Linked DNA regions of Homo sapiens: region 2 is linked to region 1. Evidence: fine-mapped expression QTL. A gene starts in region 1. The other region holds a variant in brackets. All regions are shown on one strand. Distances are between the middles of the regions. Region 1 holds the start of KIAA0930. Region 2 overlaps KIAA0930.

Region 1 (2,759 bases):
CCTCACTGGCTGGGAGACCCCACCCACACCTGCAGTCCCAGGCCCTTCCAAACAATACGAGGCACCCCCATCCCACGCCCCCCAGCAGATCCATGACTTAAAGCCCAGAATCACACCGAGAGGCAGCAGGCCCTGCCCCTCAGCCAAGCGGGCGGGTTCGGGGGGCCATTGCCCAACAGGTCCCTGGATACAGCTAAGGGATGAGAGGGGCCGGTGGGTGCGGAAAGACAAAGGCTTCGGGTAGCAGGAGACAGTGGCCAGGGCACGCTCGCAGCGAGGTCCACCCAGAGCCCAACGAGGGCCCGACCCTGCCGCGCTGGGCTAAGGGTGTACCCAGATCCCACGCCCACACTCCCTACCGCGGTGCTGAGGGCCCGGGGCGGGCTTCCTGGAGAAGGAAGAAGACCCGCAGAGACACGAAGAAGAAGGAGGAAGATGAGACAGACACCCGGACGGACTGACAGGGGGAGACGCCGAATGAGACCCGGGCACAGGGGTGCGGGGCGCTCGTCGGACGGAAAGCAGAGACAGACCCAGATGCAGGGACGGTGGGGGGGGGGCCATGGAGGAAGACAGGGTACCCAGGCAGACCCAGAGACCACGACACCCGCGCAGAGACAGAGATGCGCGGGGCGCACAGAAACACGGACGCGCAGAGGCGGCCCCGGAGACGCTCACCTCTCCCGGCCCGGCCTCGCCCCCGGGTCCCACTCACCGAGGCCGCAGACCTCGCGGCGCAGGCTAAGACGGCCGCGCTCCTCCGCTATGGCACGCAGCATGTGCTGCAGCGAGCGCTCCTCGGCCTCGGCGCCGCCCGCAGGCTCGGGGGCGGCGGCGGCGGGGAGGGCGGGCGGCCCGGCCCGCAGCCCGCCGCGAGCACCAAGGAAGCCACAGTCCGCCTCTGTGCGCGTCGCCGTCGCCGCCGCCGCCGCCACCACCCGCCAAACACAGCACCGGCGAGCGCACCTCCGCGCCGCCGCCGCCCGCGCGCCCCCGGCTCCGCTCGCCCCGCCCCGGCCCGGCCCGGCCCCGGTCCGGCCCCGCCCCTTCCCCGCCCCGGCCCCGCCCCTGTCCCCTCCCGCCCCGCCTCTGAACGGCCCGGACCCACCCCGGCTCCCTGGCCCCGCCCCCTGACCTCCCTTGCCCCGCCCACTTCCAAACGGCCAGTCTCCGCCAATCTTCGGATGCCCAGGACAGCCTCCCTCAAACCGCTCGCGGGGTCCCGCCTCCACCCAAGGTCCTAAACGCCCCACCAACGGGATCACGCCTCTGAGCCCCTCCCGCCGCCCCTTCAGGGCACCTCTCCCCTCCCCCGCTGCTACCCCACGGGATGTGTACTTTGTCACCCGCCCTGTGCGTTGCCACCTCCACCAAGTCCCCTCGGCTGACTTCTGGGAACTTCCTCCGCAGAACCCCTCAAGAGGTCACCTGCTCCCAGAAGGTGGTCTCCTGGGGGACACCGTGGCAAAGCCCTTCCGGCCCCCCTCCTCTGCACCTGGCACAGTGCAGAGTGTTGCGCCTCCATTTCCTCAGCTGCACCATGGGGGACCTTTCCCTGCCTTGCCTCCCCAACATGGGGGAGTGTTGATGAAGGGGGAGGTATGAGGTTAGCTGGGCGTGTCATCCTGATGAAGCCAGGTCTGGCCAGCATCCCTCCGTGTGCTAGTTGTGGCTGATACAGGAAGACACCGGAGAAGCAGCCAGTGGCCTCCCCAAACCTCACGCCTGGTGGTCCATTTCCAAGAACAGGGGGAGATGGAGAGACCAGCATTGATTTCCAGGTCTCTCCAAAGCTAAATCTACATCACTCCCTGCATTCACAGCCTGTGTGTGGACCCCAGACCCATCAAGGTCCCCCTTTCCCCTGTCTGGAGTCCTCTTCTCCCCATTCCTGTGTAACTTGCTTCCTTTGTGTCCCGAGTGTCACATCCTCAAAGAAACTCCCCTGACCGCCTTCCCTCCCTCTCTCTTCCCTTAGTCTGTTTCTCCTTCACAGGGTGACACTTACCTCCTCCCGACACATTGGATACCTATGGGTTCACTTGTTCTCTTCTCTACCGAGGGAGGGGCCTGTCTACTACACAGCTGTTGTCTCAGTACCCAGAACATTGCCTGGCACACATTAGATGCCCAATAAATAGATATGGGCTGCAGGCTGGGCACAGTGGCTCATGCCTGTAATCCCAACACTTTGGGAGGCCGAGGTAGGTGGATTGCCTGAGGTTAGGAGTTCCAGAACAGCCTGGCTAAAATGGTGAAACCCCATCTCTACTAAAAATACAAAAATTAGCCGGGCATGGTAGCACACATTTGTAATCCCAGCTACTCTGGAGGCTGAGGCAGGAGAATTGCTTGAACCTGGGAGGCGGAGGCTGCAGTGAGCCGAGATCCCGCCACTGCACTCCAAGCTGGGAGACAGAGCAAGACCCTGTCCCCCCCCAAAAAAAAAGAAAAGAAAAGAAAAAAAAATGTAGGCTGCATAAACGAAGAATGATGGAGAGGTCTGATGGGGACGCAGGGGTCTTCCTGGGAGGCACAGCAGGAAGGAGCCGTGGGGTTGGGCAGAGCCCCAGAAGGGAGATGGGATCTGGATCCTGCTTCAGGCCTCTGCCCCAGTTTTGTGCCACTGGCCCCTGAACTCTTCAGAGCAGAGCCACATCTGACCCCTCTGTGTCCCCAGTGCCAGGCCCAGGAGGGCTCTGTAGAAAGGTGAGCAGTGAGGGAATGAAGGAAGTGCGCGACCAGCCTCACGTGTATTT
Region 2 (3,017 bases), 34 kb before region 1:
ACAGGGACCACAGGCACGTGCTACCACACCCGGCTAATTTTTAAAACTTTTTGTAGATGTGGCGTTTCGCCATGTTGTCCAGGCTGGTCTTGAACTCCTGGGCTCAGGTGATCCTCCTGCCTCGACCTCCCAAAGTACTGGGATTACAGGTGTGAGCCACCATGCCCGGCCAGAACTCCAATTCTTGCTCCCCAGTTCTCTAGCGACGGGAGATGGGACCCAGGGGCCATCCATTCTCCTCACTAAGCCTCAGTTTCTTCATCTGTACAATGGACTAAGGGCATCTTCCCCTCAAAGTTGTCATAATGATTTAAAGAGCTCATATTTGCTAAGTGGCATCAATGATAATAGTGACACCTACTGAGCTCTTAGTGGACGGCGGGGTCTGGGCTACACATTTTACAAATTATTAATCCTTTTAAAGCAACCCTGCAATGCAGGTATCATTAGCCCCATGTTAACAGATCAGAGTCAAATTTACTGAAGATCAATAATAAATACATATCAGAGAGAAACCAAAGCATGTCTACACCTCTCCTGGGAGACTGGCTTCCAATTTTTTTTTTTTTTTGAGACAGAATCTCACTCCATCCGTCACCCAGGCTACAGTGCAACACATCTTGGCTCACTGCAGTCTCCGCCTCCTGGATTCTAATGATTCTCCTGCCTCAGCCTCCTGAGTAGCTGGGATTACAGGCACGTGCCACCACACCTGTCTACTTTTTGTATTTTTGGTAGAGACAGGATTTCACCATGTTGGCCAGGCTGGTCTCGAACTCCTGACCTCAGGTGATCTGCCCACCTCGGCCTCCTAAAGTGCTGGGATTACAAGCATGGGCCACCGTGCCCGGCCTCAATTTATTTCTTATTTATTGTTTTGAGACGGAGTCTCGCTCTGTCACCCGGGCTGGAGTACAGTGGCACAATCTTGGCTCACTGCAACCTCTACCTCCTGGGTTCATGTGATTCTCCTGCCCCAGCCTCCCAAGTAGCTGGGATTACAGGTGTCTGCCACCACACCTGGCTAATTTTTTTCTGTATTTTTAATAGAGAGGGGGTTTCACCATGTTGGCCAGGCTGATCTCGAACTCCTGACCTCAAGTGATCTACCCACCTCGGCCTCCCAAAGTGCAGGGATTACAGGCATGAGCCACTGCACCCGGCCTCAATTTATTTCTTATTTTTTTATTTTTTTGAGATGAAGTCTTGCTTTGTCACCCGGGCTGGAGTACAGTGGCACAATCTTGGCTCACTGCAACCTCTACCTCCTGGGTTCACGTGATTCTCCTGCCCCAGCCTCCCAAGTACCTGGGATTATAGGCGTCTGCCACCACACGTA[AT/A]TTTTTTTTTTTTTTTTTAATAGAGACGGGGTTTCACCATGTTGGCCAAGCTGATCTCAAACTCCTGACCTCAAGTGATCTACCCACCTCGGCCTCCCAAAGTGCAGGGATTACAGGCGTGAGCCACCGCGCCCAGCCTGGCTTTCAATTTTGAAGCAGCTGTGCTGACTGGGGGCCTCTGGTCCCGGTCCTGGGTGCTCTCACTGACTCGGGCTCCGAGGGGCTGGGCACTGCTGGGCCCTCTTGCAGGTGCACAGGCCTGCACCCCCCAAAGGCAGAGCTGGGATCTATGGAAAGAGGTGCAAGAGGCCAACCTTGCCTAGGAGCGAGAAACAGACGTCCCCGGGTCGGGGGGCCCCACTTCCACCGCCTGTATGGTTCTGCAGTCACCCCGAGCCCCTGAGCTGAGAGTCCTGGGGTTCACAAGACTCTGCTGTTCCTCCTGGTCTCGCTTCATTGACCTGTTCATTTGCTTTTGCTCAGCAAAGCGCTGTGGACTCAGTGAATGAAAGGCTCGGGGGCACGATCACACGGCTGTTCGGGGCAGCACCACAGCACAGGCAGGCGAAAGAGCAGGTTCCCCATCAGAAAGGTGTCCGTGTGCGCACCAAAGCCAGGCCCAAGAGGACACTGGGAGCTGCCCGGTACCCACTGACAGGAGGGTGGCCAGGCCGCCATGGTACACTCTGCAGGCATTACACAGCAGTGAGACCAGATTACAACCACCTGTGTCAACAGGCATGACTCACAAACATGACATGCGGAGAAAGAAGCCTGAAACAACATATACTGCCCGATTCCAATGTATGAGCTGTGAGAACAGGCAGAACCACCGACTCCACACACATGAGCTGTGAGAACAGGCAGAACCACCGACTCCACATGCACGAGCTGTAAGAACAGGTAGAACCCGCCAACTCCACACACACGAGCTGTGAGAACAGGCAGAACCCAACTCCACACGCAGGAGCTGTGAGAACAGGCAGAACCACCGACTCCACACGCACGAGCTGTAAGAACAGGCAGAACCCACCGACTCCACATGCAGGAGCTGTGAGAACAGGCAGAACCCGCCCGGGAAGTTTGAGGAGACAGAGCAGCAGCTGCCCAGGGGGAGGTTGAGCCCTGGGGTGGGGTGAAGGGGCCTCGGTGTTCTCATCACACTCTGTATCTGGGGGCTGGTGAAACCAGGTGTTCAGTCTAAGAAGAATCAAACTGTGTACACGTCTGTGTTTTTCTGTATAGACGTTATATTGAAAACAATCTACTAAAAAGGAAAAAGTGAGACTGGGGACAGGGCTTCGCCGCTGGCAAACTGTGTGACCCCAGGAAGCTTCCTCCCCGTCTCTGAGCTTTGGTTTTCTGAGTGGGTGTGAAGGTGATCGGCACCTTAGGATCCTGAGGTGTCACGTGACCGTGAGACACAGGGCTCCGGCCACCAGCGCAGAGCCAGCAGCACACAGAGCCAGGTCCCCCTCCTGCCAAAGGCACACAATGGGCTGCCCAGGAACACAGAGCGTTTTGTCCAGGGCTGGAGGAAACAGAGGGCAGGGAATCCAGGACATCCCTCCCTGGGAAAGGCTGGACTGGGGATGTCCCTTGGGCCCTGGAGCACTCGGGGTTCCTGGCATCCTGTCCCCCTGACACTGCAGCTCCTGCCCATCCACGCTCCCCTGC

Evidence for each region. PIP is the estimated chance that this variant, and not a neighbour inherited with it, causes the effect.
Region 2: its variant is fine-mapped to the expression of KIAA0930 in prefrontal cortex (ROSMAP, PIP 0.95).

Annotation. Positions count from the first base shown.
Region 1 is chr22:45,239,925-45,242,683 of GRCh38, forward strand. It overlaps KIAA0930, which reads right to left and starts at 970. Exons shown (of 10, transcript NM_001009880.2): 1 at 716-970. The coding sequence starts at 779. RefSeq lists silencers at 544-633, 784-843, 1,004-1,063, 1,094-1,293.
Region 2 is chr22:45,206,146-45,209,162 of GRCh38, forward strand. The region is part of intron 2 of KIAA0930; the gene reads right to left. Among named protein-coding and RNA genes, the nearest start is that of MIR1249, 6.6 kb to the left of the region's middle. The variant AT/A (reference allele first, on the strand shown) is at 1,340.